Homo sapiens: one gene and its partners. The gene in region 3 interacts genetically with the main gene of each other region. Each region holds a gene or a part of one and is shown on either strand. Other genes may lie near its edges.

Evidence for each region. Genes that interact genetically often act in the same process or in processes that back each other up.
Region 1: changes in MAP3K5 (region 3) and NPY4R together harm fitness less than expected from each alone (positive genetic interaction), as found in Homo sapiens cells (one large-scale study listed by BioGRID).
Region 2: of MAP3K5 (region 3) and PPP5C, changing one suppresses a phenotype caused by changing the other (phenotypic suppression), as found in Homo sapiens cells (one study listed by BioGRID).

Annotation. Positions count from the first base shown.
Region 1 is NC_000010.11:46,463,159-46,467,140, reverse strand, and holds the start of NPY4R (neuropeptide Y receptor type 4), read left to right. Parts: upstream 1-1,182; 5' UTR 1,183-1,463; intron 1,464-2,408; exon of another isoform or gene 2,409-3,255; 5' UTR 3,256-3,411; intron 3,412-3,982.
Region 2 is NC_000019.10:46,381,587-46,385,086, forward strand, and holds part of PPP5C (serine/threonine-protein phosphatase 5), read left to right. Parts: exon of another isoform or gene 1-938; intron 939-1,824; coding exon 1,825-1,890; intron 1,891-2,193; coding exon 2,194-2,292; intron 2,293-3,217; coding exon 3,218-3,323; intron 3,324-3,500. UniProt on the Homo sapiens protein: Serine/threonine-protein phosphatase that dephosphorylates a myriad of proteins involved in different signaling pathways including the kinases CSNK1E, ASK1/MAP3K5, PRKDC and RAF1, the nuclear receptors NR3C1, PPARG, ESR1 and ESR2, SMAD proteins and TAU/MAPT.
Region 3 is NC_000006.12:136,610,978-136,614,477, forward strand, and holds part of MAP3K5 (mitogen-activated protein kinase kinase kinase 5), read right to left. Parts: intron 3,310-3,500; coding exon 3,182-3,309; intron 2,280-3,181; coding exon 2,143-2,279; intron 411-2,142; coding exon 305-410; intron 1-304. UniProt on the Homo sapiens protein: Serine/threonine kinase which acts as an essential component of the MAP kinase signal transduction pathway. Plays an important role in the cascades of cellular responses evoked by changes in the environment.

The DNA.
Region 1 (3,982 bases), on a different chromosome or scaffold from region 3:
AGAGGGACCACTGCCATGACTTCATGGGGACATTTCCATGGGGAGCCACAGGAGGTTCACTGGACAGGTGTGTATGTCCAGTGTTTAGGAGGTGCTCTTGAAGCAGATCTGTTACTCTCAGGAGGTTCTCTAAGCGCATATGTGACTTTGCCATGTGGGGATGGGGGGCAGGGAATTATAAGCTAGTGTATTCAAAACAGGAGCAGCCCTTGTAAGCAAAGCTGTTCCATTATAGCCAAGTCATGTGCATCTCAGCTCCAAAGGAGAAAGTGACCATTCTCATTGAATTCTCATCGCCACAACCTTGGGACTGCCTGAGATAAGACACTCCACTTCCAGGGCCCACCCTGAGTTTTCACTCACACCCTGGATGCCCATCTCCTTCCCTCACCCTGGCTGACATTCTCAGCCACACTGCCCTCCCCTGGTCTCCAGGGGCTGAATGCTCCCAGCCTCAGGGCTTTTGCCGTGGCTGTGCCATCCATCTGGCCTATCGAACCCATTTGCTCACAGCATCTCACCCCCTGTAATAATTTATTTCCCTCTTTCCTTGTACCCTGTCTGTCTTCTCCCCCAGGGCTGAGAGCTCCAGAAGGAACCAAGGACAGGGAGCCTGTCTTGTCCAGCTCTGGTGCCCAGCAGGAGAGCCAGGCTCATAGGAGGTCTGCAAGTAATGTTTCTGGACGAACTTATGAAAGGCAGGTCTTTTTATACCCATTTCATGGATGAGGAAACTGAGGCAGAGAGAGAGAGAGACAGGCAGACGCACACACCCCTAGACAGAGAGAAACACTCCTGGAGAAAGAGAAAGGGAGGGAGAGAGGGAGGGGGAGGGAGGGAGAGAGAGAGAGAGAGAGAAAGAAAGAAAGAAAGAAAGGAAAGAAAGAAAGAAAGAAAGAAAGAAAGAAAGAAAGAAAGAAAGAAAGAAAGAAAGAAAGAAAGAAAGAAAGAAAGAAAGAGAGAAAGACAGCGCAGCTCCAGCCTGCCTGTATCCAGGGTTGAGGTGGGCGTGAGAGACACACGCAGGCAGGGCTGCAGTTCCGGGCAGGCCTTGGGGGCTCAAGATGCGGCTCCCCAGGGCGAGTGCTGGGGTCCCGGGGCAGGCGGGCGGCTGGAGCCCTCTCGTGGGCGGGCGCAAGGGGCAGGCTGGGCGGGCGCAGGCGGGAGCGTAGCAGCCGCTCCACTCCGCACGCAGGCAGCATCGGGGCAGCAGGAGCAGGTGAAGCAGGCGCGGCTCTGCCCCGCGCCTGGTGCCCCCTGGGCACAGGAGTGCGGCCGGGGGCGGGGCCGAGTGGGCCCCGGTACGAACCCTCCGGGAAGCCGGGCGCGCTGCCTGCCCTTGGCCCGGGGCGCAGAGCGTCACACTGGATCTGGGGAGCATCCTACCCCCACTGTGGACCTCAGTCTCCTCACCTGAGACATGGGCGGCCCCATCCGCACCCTGTAAGCCGCAAGCCAAGGAGGTAAGGGGTGCATCTGAGGTGTCTGGGCGCTATGGGCATTAGGATATAGTAGCTTTTGCTGAGATTTCAGGAGACAAAGCAAAGGGCCTTCCCTATTCTAACCCCACTGGGAGATTAGCATTGTGTGTATGATTCATTAATTTTCCTCTGATTGACTGGGAAGGCAGGCTGCAGGGGGTCCCTGTTGGGGCTTGCAGCTGGTTCTAGTTTTTGTATCTGGAGAGCTGCCTGGGGACAAAATGCAGAGACACCATTTTATTGACCTTGCGTAATAATCTACCCTCCCCCTCATACACTCGCCACCCCCTTGGGTGTGCCTGAGGGACTTGAGGTCCCCTGGTCCTCACTGGTCAGTGTACCCCAAGCCCAGCAGCCCCAGGCAGATGCCCAACACCACCTTTTCAGTGCTCCTCCTCCTCCTGTCTTGGCCCTCTCTGCCAATCCATTTTCTATATCCAAGTGATCTTACTGGAATGGACCTGACCTTGCTGGTCTGGCCCACCACTCCAGCTTCATCATCTGCCACCCTGGAACCTCTTATTCTGCTTACTTTTCCCAGCAGGCTCTGCTCCTTCCTGCCTCTGTGCCTTTGCACATGCTGTTCCTTGCACTTCGAGTTCCCTCCTCTCCCTGTCCCTTTGGCTGGTTGACTCCTCTTCAGCCTTTGAGCCCTGTACCATTGCCACCTCTTCTCTCACCTCCCTGCTCCCTGCTCCTTCTCTGATCTCTCAACTCACAGGCCTCTCTTTCATATTGGTGTTGGCAATGGCAATGAGTTCCATCTGCATTCGTGCTGGTCAGCCCCTCTGCTCTGGGAGGGCCATGACTGTATAAGTCATCTTTGCAGCCCTTGTTTCTAGCCCAGGGCTTGACACACACTTATTGAGTGGGTGAATGAAGCAGTGAGCATTTTCTGGAGCCCTCCCAGCCCAGTCCTTCCACTCTGATCCTGCTTTAGGTGGTTGGTTTGGGATGAATGGTGTTTCTCCACACCACTGGCCAAGCCTTGCTGATGGTCACCCAGAGCCTTGGGTTCTGGCCCATTTGCTGCTTCTGAGTGCAGTGCCTCTGCCACAGGTTCATGCAGCTGCGACTGTTCTTTATCTTATATTGGGCCCTGTGTTTGGCTCTGGAATAGTTTATTTTGCCATGTTCAGCCCCAAATGGCCCTTTTTGCCCGAAGACCATAGTGCTGGAGAAATCTTCCTGCCTTCGAGATCTGGTTCCTAAATAACCAGACTGTAAACTATCAGGTGAATTCACAGCTTGATCTTTTAAATGACCAAATGAGACTCTTTTTTTTTTTTTTGAGACAGAGTCTCGCTCTGTTGCCCAGGCTGGAGTGCAGTGGTGCACTCTCTGCTGACTGCAACCTCCGCCTCCCAGGTTCAAGTGATTCTCCTGCTTCACCCTCCCATGTAGCTGGGACTACAGGCATGCACCACCACACTTGGCTAATTTTTGTATTTTCAGCGGAGACGGGGTTTCACCATGTTGGCCAGGCAGGTGTTGAAGTCCTGACCTTAGAAACTCATCTTTATAAGTAGATCAGATGCACAGCAAGTGACATTCATGACAGCCGACAAATAGATTTTACTGAGCTCTGGTTGATTTTGGCCTTGTGCTCTGCAAAAACTGCCTTAACATAGCAATTGATCATGTAAAAAATACATATGGCCATGATATGAGACTTAAAGAATATCTCAAATAGGGTTTTCTGCTATAGTGTTTTACAAGATGGGGTCCAAGGGCCATGTGCATCAGAATCACATAGTCTACTTGTTAAATACAGATTCCTGGCCCCCATCCTGGATTCACTTAACTACATCTCCTGGTGGAAGGGCCCTGGGATCTGCACTTTCAACATGCTTCTAGAATGATTCTGATGTTTACTGAAGGTTGAGAACTGCAACCCTGTGGGATTAATAATGACTAGAGAATCTGAGAGGTGAGTCACAATGATGTATGTAGTGGTATGGTGCTTCCCATGCAAAACATCCATCATTGGCACTAACACGGGGGAACTCTGGAGTCTAAATTCCAACTCAGTCTTGGCAGGGGGTCCGTTGTGCTGAGGAGGTCCTCGGAGAAGGGACAGCCTGTACCAGGGCATAGAGATGTGGAAGAGTCTGGTGTGCTTGTGAGCTGCACACTGCATCAAGTGACTTGAACATAGTCATGGAGTAGGTTCTGTGGAGGGCACTGGGCACCTGTGACTTTGGCCAGGTATGTCTGTGCACATGGTGGGTAGTAGGAAGAAGCTGGTGTGCTGATGAGCCAGGCTTTGCATACTGGGCAGTCTTCAGTTTTGCCAGGTATCACCTAAAAAACAAGGCTACCAGGGCAGGGAGGGGCTGAGACCAGGAGGGTGCACTGATTGTGGATCCCCGAGGCTTTAGCTCTATCTTGAAGGGAATGGGGTGCCGTGGAAGGACACAAGCAATCCTGTGCAGAGTGGCATTTATTGCTGTCTCCATTAAGATAAAATGTGACAAGGGGCATTCTACCCATGTTCCCTG
Region 2 (3,500 bases), on a different chromosome or scaffold from region 3:
AAAAATACAAAAATTAGCCAGGCATGGTGGTTGGCACCTGTAGTCCTAGCTACTTGGGAGGCTGAGTGGGGAGGATCACCTGAACCTGGGAGGTTGAGGCTGCAGTGAACTGTGTTCGAGCCACTGCACTCCAGCCTGGGTGACAGAGTGAGACCCTGTCTTAAAACAAATAAACAAATAAGAAAATGGCACACATTTCTCCTGTTGAGCCACAAGAGGGAGGGGCTGTGTGAACCTCATCTGTAGTTTAGGGGCAGCTTTTATTGGAGTTTCTTTACCACCGGCTTTAAATGTGTTCAGAGTAGAATTAGGACTTTCCCTTCAGCAGAGCTTGGGATCTTAGCCCTGGCAGAATTCCAGGGATGTCTTTATGTTTTAAAGTCGCCAGCTTTTGGAACTGTGGGAGGCCTCTGGTATTCAGCCCTGCCGCCAGACTGTGGGGCCACTGGGGTGCTCTCCGCTCTCCAGTCTCGCCCCCACTTCTGTACCTCAGGAGGTTTCTCTGCACCTCACTCCCTCGCGCCCAACCTTCCATGAAGCCCGTGTGAGGGAGTTGGCAGGGGGCAGAGGCGGGCTGTGCTGGGGCTCCCTGGAGTCCTCATCTGTCACGCCAGTCCCCACACGGTCATGAACTTCCACTCATTTCCCCTCACGCAGGGCATCCCGCCCTGCTGCCTCGCACCAGGGTGAAAGCTGTGGGCTCCTTCCCCAAGGAAGGGCTCGTCCTGTCTGCATTTTGATTAATTTAGGTCCCTTTGCATTGCCAGCTCTCAGATGGCTTTACCTTTGATTTTGTTGCTTGTTTGGCTTGTTTTCATCTTTAGGGCGAGACAGTCTTTTGTAACTTTTCTACCTTCTGACTAGAAGTGGATGCCGCCTGCATTTTCTTAACACCTTTTTCCCCAGCTTATTTTGGAAATCGTCAGACCTACAGAGAGCTGAAAGAACAGTACAGTTAACATCTGTCCACCCTTCACACAGATTCACCACTTGTGAACATTTTAATGCATTAACTTTATGTGTCTGTCTACTTATTTATGCATTTGTATGTGTATACTTTTTTCTTTTTTTTCCCCTAACCCATTTGAAAGTAAGTTGCAGCCATCATAACCTGGATCTCCCAAAAACAAAGACGTCCTCTTGTGTGACCACAGTTGAATTGTCCTACCTTAGAAATTCATCATTGATGTGATAATACTGACTAAGGTAGACAGTCCACAGGCCATCCGGAAAATCTGGAAACATTGACAAATATGCATGTCATTGTCAAGGTCATATCCAATCTGTGAAAAATAAATCATCTGCATTTCTAGACATCTATTAGTATTTTAATTCTCCCCAGCTCTCCCCAAAACATCCTTTTTAGCTGCTTTTAAAAAATTCAGCGTCCGTTGAAAGCACCAGTGTTGCCTATGACCTGCCTTTTTACCTCTTTTTACCTAGAAAGTCTCACTTCTTTTTTGGGAGACTCTTTTATGACAGTGACATTGCGCTGTGTCCAGGCCAGTTCTTTTATAAAATGTTCTACGATCTGGATTCATGCATGTATTTCCACTTGATGCTGAGTATTTTAAGATAATTCAAGAATCAGGTTTTCGTACAAAACAATCGCAATGCTTCGGCACTGCACAGGCCACAGAAGCCTGCGGCTGCCTCCGGCCCCGCCTGCTCCCGCTCCCCCAGGCCTGCCCTGCCCTTTTTCTTCTCTCCCTGCTTCTCCCTCGCCCTCAGCCCAGCAGCGTCTCATGGGCAGTCCAGGCTTTCGGGGCCAGGTTGGGCAGCAGCCCCTGCAGCCGGTCCCACTGAGTCTGCCCTGCCTTCCAGATTCTGGTACAGGTCAAAGAGGTCCTCTCCAAGCTGAGCACGCTCGTGGAAACCACACTCAAAGAGGTGCGCGTTGTGGGGCAGTGCGGGGAGGGCCAGCGGGGGTGGGCTCTCTGGCTGGGGAGGGGCCACAGAGCTCAGGAACTCACGGATCCACCTCCCTCTCTCCCTCACACCCCACCCCTGTGCCTTTCCTCCTGAATATCCCATTTCTCTCCTGGCCTCTTGGTCTTCGTTTGTGTTCCCTGCTTGTGTCTCTTGCATGATTCTTCTTGGTCTACTGTGAACTCTTACCCTTCCCCTCACCTCTGCCCCCTCCCCACGTCTCTCTCTCGGCCCGTCCCTCTCCGGTGGCCTCTTTTCTTTCAGACAGAGAAGATTACAGTATGTGGGGACACCCATGGCCAGTTCTATGACCTCCTCAACATATTCGAGCTCAACGGTTTACCCTCGGAGACCAACCCCTATGTATCCTTCTCAGCAGAGCCACCCTCTCCCCACCTCCACCCCCAGCCGCAGCCTCAGGTCTGCACAGAGTGGGAGGAGCCCTTGCCAGGAAAAGACGTGACCTTGGAAAGGAGAGGCCTGGCCATGCTGGGGCACCAAGGTGTGGGTGGAGCTGCAGGCTGGCCATGCACCCCAGGCTCCAGGCTCGGACAGGCCTGGGCCAGCACCCACCTGCTGTGTGACCTAAGCTGGTAGCTCAGTCTCTCTGGGTCTTGGCTTGTCTTCGTCTGCCTCAGGATCACATTTGAATGGCACCTGGCACTGGCCACACTTGGGTTCCATCCTGGCTTTGCCACTTCCCAGCTGTGTGACCGAAGCAGGTTACTTCACTGCTTGGTGTCACAGTTTCCCCATTTGCAAAGAGGGATAATAATATGTGCAACCTTGTTACTCAGCAGTTACTGAGAGGACAGGTTAAGAACAGGGCCTGGCCCACACCTGATGCTATCTAAGTATTTCCCCGTGTTATGGTATCTGCTCGATGAACGGCCACTTGTAGGGCCACTAGGCCTATGCATTGTTGAGTGGGAGGGCCCGTGTCCCATCTCCCCCATGGCTCCAGGCCTCTCTGAGGAGAGCTGAAGGAGGTGGACTGACTAGTCCCCGCACCTCCCCGCCACTGGCTTTCCGGGAGACAGGAGGCAGGGTCCTCAGTGCCATACTACTGAGGCTCAGCGGCCAAGCTCTGGCTGGAGCCACGGTGAGGAAAGGATTAGAAACCCAGATCCCTTGAGCCCTGCCAAGTCCTCACTCCCTGGGAGGTGCTGACAGGAGGCTTGAGGCCAGGCAGGAGCAGCCCATCTGGCCCATCTTCTGCCACCACCCCCAACCCCACCGCACCGCACCCTTCCCCTCCACGCTTGCCATGTTTTCCTCAGCAGGACAGATATTTAATGGTGACTTTGTGGACCGAGGCTCCTTCTCTGTAGAAGTGATCCTCACCCTTTTCGGCTTCAAGCTCCTGTACCCAGATCACTTTCACCTCCTTCGAGGTGAGCTGGGAAGTGACAAGGTTTGGGTTCATTGTGGGGTCCTGAGTGGGGCACTCACTCTGCAAGGATAATAGTTGCAGCTGTATTTATTTTGTGGACTCGGAGATCATGCACAGGGCGACCTTTTAAGATTGAGTATGTAGTGCACTGCACAAAAGCATCACACCAAAGGACGCG
Region 3 (3,500 bases):
CATGCCTGTAGTCCCAGCTACTCAGGAGGCTGAGGTGGGAGGATTGCTTGAGCCTGGGAGTTTGAGGCTGCAGTGATAGGTGATCACACCACTGCATTCCAGCCTAGGTGACAGGGCAAGACCCTGTCTCAAAAAAAAAAAAAAAAAAAAAAAAAAAGAAAGAAAAGAAAAGAAAAGAAAGAAAAAAGATACCAACATTACTGTGTGTGAGAACACCAACTGAATTTCTCTCTCACATTGTGCTCAAACTCAGCAATTATTTCTTTAATTACATAAGATCTGTATCATCATTGCAAAAACATACCAGTAAAAGTTTCAGTACAGGGGTTTATGCCAGCAAGCCTCTTTGATGTTCCGAAGTCAGAGATCTTGAGAACACCACTGTAGGTATTAATCAACACATTGTCACCCTAGAGAACAGAGGACTTTAATCACAATTGTTATCTTTCTTCAGATACTGTCTGTTGTTGACTTGGTAAGTCCAATTTAAAAAAAAAAAAGGTGTCCTTACAGCTACCAACGACATTAATTCTGTATTCTTCATTAATAGTTTATCTCAATAGTGCATTCTTGACACTATTTTTTGTTTACATATTATCAGTTTGAAACCAACCGCCTTTGCGAAAATTACAACAGTGAGAAAATTATGACAGTAAAAGAGATCTGATCTAACCACCACCATCTTGCTTTAAATTTCCAAACTGCCCTTGGTCATTCCAGGGTGTAGACCAAGCTCACTTGGAGAAATTTAATTTATAGTTTAGTTGATAATAGCCCTTCCCCAAAACTAAACTATCTTTGTAAAACTAATGAAAGGCCACCAGGTTAGGAGGATGAGAGGGGCCTAAAGTCCGCTAAGATGTAGGCACAGTCAAATGATTATCAGCCCATTATTCTGGGGGTCACAAGATTTGCAACTTCCCCAATTGTTCCTATAATTGACATCACTATTGTAGAACTGAAGACTGGCCTTTTGAGATGTCTTTACAGGCTTCTCCATTTCTGACTATCAGATGGCATCACCCAGACCTGTGACTCTGGACTCAACCAGTCCTGTGGCCCCTACCCAGAAGTGGACTCAACACACAAGAACCATTTTCCACACCCCTATAATTACATCCCCAACCACCCAGACCCTAGCCCCCTGCTCACCAAACTATCTTTGAAAAACCCTAGCCTCTAAATTTTTGGAGAAGCTGATTTGAATAATTATAAGATCCAATATTTTGTTTGGCCATCTCTATGTGTATTAAACTCTTTCTCAATTGCAATTCTTACATCTTGAGAAATCAGCTCTATCTGGTCAGTGGGCAACATGAACTCATTGGATGGTTATAAGTTCTTCATAATCTGCTACTCAGATCACAAGATCAAATATGATTCCTAATTGGTTAGAGCTTGTTGCTATTTACAGATATATAATGATGTATGTATAATTAAATTACGATTTTCATAACTTTCCAGTTACCTTACTTTCTTTTCTATGTTTCTTTACTTCTTTTCCTGGAATATGTAGGGACATGATAGATAAATGGGCTTTTTGGTTGATTTTAGGGTACTAATATTAACTTATTTTCAACAGTCCAGACTTTGTAAAAAATGTATTAGTTCTGAATTTTCTTTTTAAAAAGAGAATGTAAAGTTATTATTTTAGCTTATTTTAGAGAATCTATACCTTATAATTATAGTTAAATCAATGAATATGTGATACTTGTGAGAAAAGAGGAATTTTTTTTCTTCTAACCATTCATCCATTGATTCAATAAGTATTTACTGAGTAGCTACTATGGGCAAGGATACAAAGATTAACCAGCCTATAAGCTCCTCAGGACCAGGGGCCATCTCCTGTTTAACTTTTGACAGCTGCATCCCACACCACAGAGCTCCTAGGAAACATTGTGTGGTGGGAGCACAATCTTGTTGGCTGAACGCAGTTAAGCAGTGTGTTCCTTGAGCAGAAGCGTTAAGACATGAACATAAATAACTGATTCAGGGTTGAACGATATTTTATATTTCTGCTGTTTCTAAGATTTACTTATTCACCATTCTAAATTAATACTCATAACACAATATGACTTTTGCAAGTAAAATAATAACCCAGCAAAGAAAGAACTCATGAAAATGAATGCTGGTGTACCTCACCTTTATGTCCCGGTGAACTATCTGATTGTCATGGAGATATTTTAATCCTTCCAGTATTTGCTTTGTATAAAAGCCAATTGTTTGCTCATTGTCTTTTAATGGACCCCATTTGGAACGAAGGAGAGCAGAAAGACTTCCTGTAAAGTAGGGATAAATAGTAAATAAATCCTCATTCAAATGAGCTCTTTAAAGTGTATTAATAATGTAACAGTAATTTAAGCTAACAGTCATTGGTTCTTCACAGTGGCCCAGGAGCTATACTGGATATCGGGCTCAAACATGAATTTGCAAATATCCCTACTCTAAAGATGCTTGTAATCAAATATGTCTAAGTAAAAGGCCAATGTCAATTGCCAACTTTAATTCAAGTCATGATGATAGATACTGAAATGGTTCCCATATTTATGTATTGTCTCTGTGAAATTACATAATTCACATGTAAAGCTTCTAGAACTTTAAATTATTTGAGCCTTATTATTTAAGGAATGTGACTTTGTGGCCTGAGTCATATAGCATTCAGTTGTAACTTCTGATTCTGCGATTATAGGCTAAATCTCTTCCGCATTTTTGTCCTGTAAATGATTGGAGAAGACTGAATGGTGCCAAAGAAAAGATCCCCCGAGACCATTACCCCTCCTTATGGAACATTAAAATAATGTGCCTTGGAATACAGCAAGCTGTAACCACTTAAATGTAATGACTTTGGGTAGAAGATGTTGCCACCCTGTTAGTCTTCAGCTTATATAAGTGAAACATGAACTTCCTCACTTTGGAACACTGGCCCATTCTTTTGGAGTCTGTGTTTCCTGGGTGGCTATCCTCAAGCTTTGCACTGGAATAAACTCTATACATTAGGATATTTTCTAAATCTCATCATTTATGGTTGACATCTCCTAACAAACTGGAGGTAATGTCACATGTCCAATTTTTCTTTCAGTTTAGACAGATTAAGACCTGTACGCTAGTAAATCCCATTCAATTTTACTCCCCTCCGAAGCTCTAAACATTCACACTTTTTAAAGAAAGAAATATCTCTTACCTCCAGGGACCTGCTCCATGAAGATTTTAATGAAACCATTCTCACTGAAAGAGCCCAGATACTGGACAATATTTTTGTGCTTCAGGTGTTTATGCAATGCTATTTCTTCATGCAGGGGCTGAGAGTATCTAAAAGACATGCAATTGTCAATGAGTTAATTATGTAGCCAGACTTTACTGTATAAATTTAAACAATACAAATGGAAAATGTCAGCCAAATATATGTCCATATGTAAAACCAAAACAACCACTTAAGGCCTTTATTTCTCCTAAGGTAAATTCTATGAGGTTGAAGGTGTGGTAGGATCTGAGGGGAAATG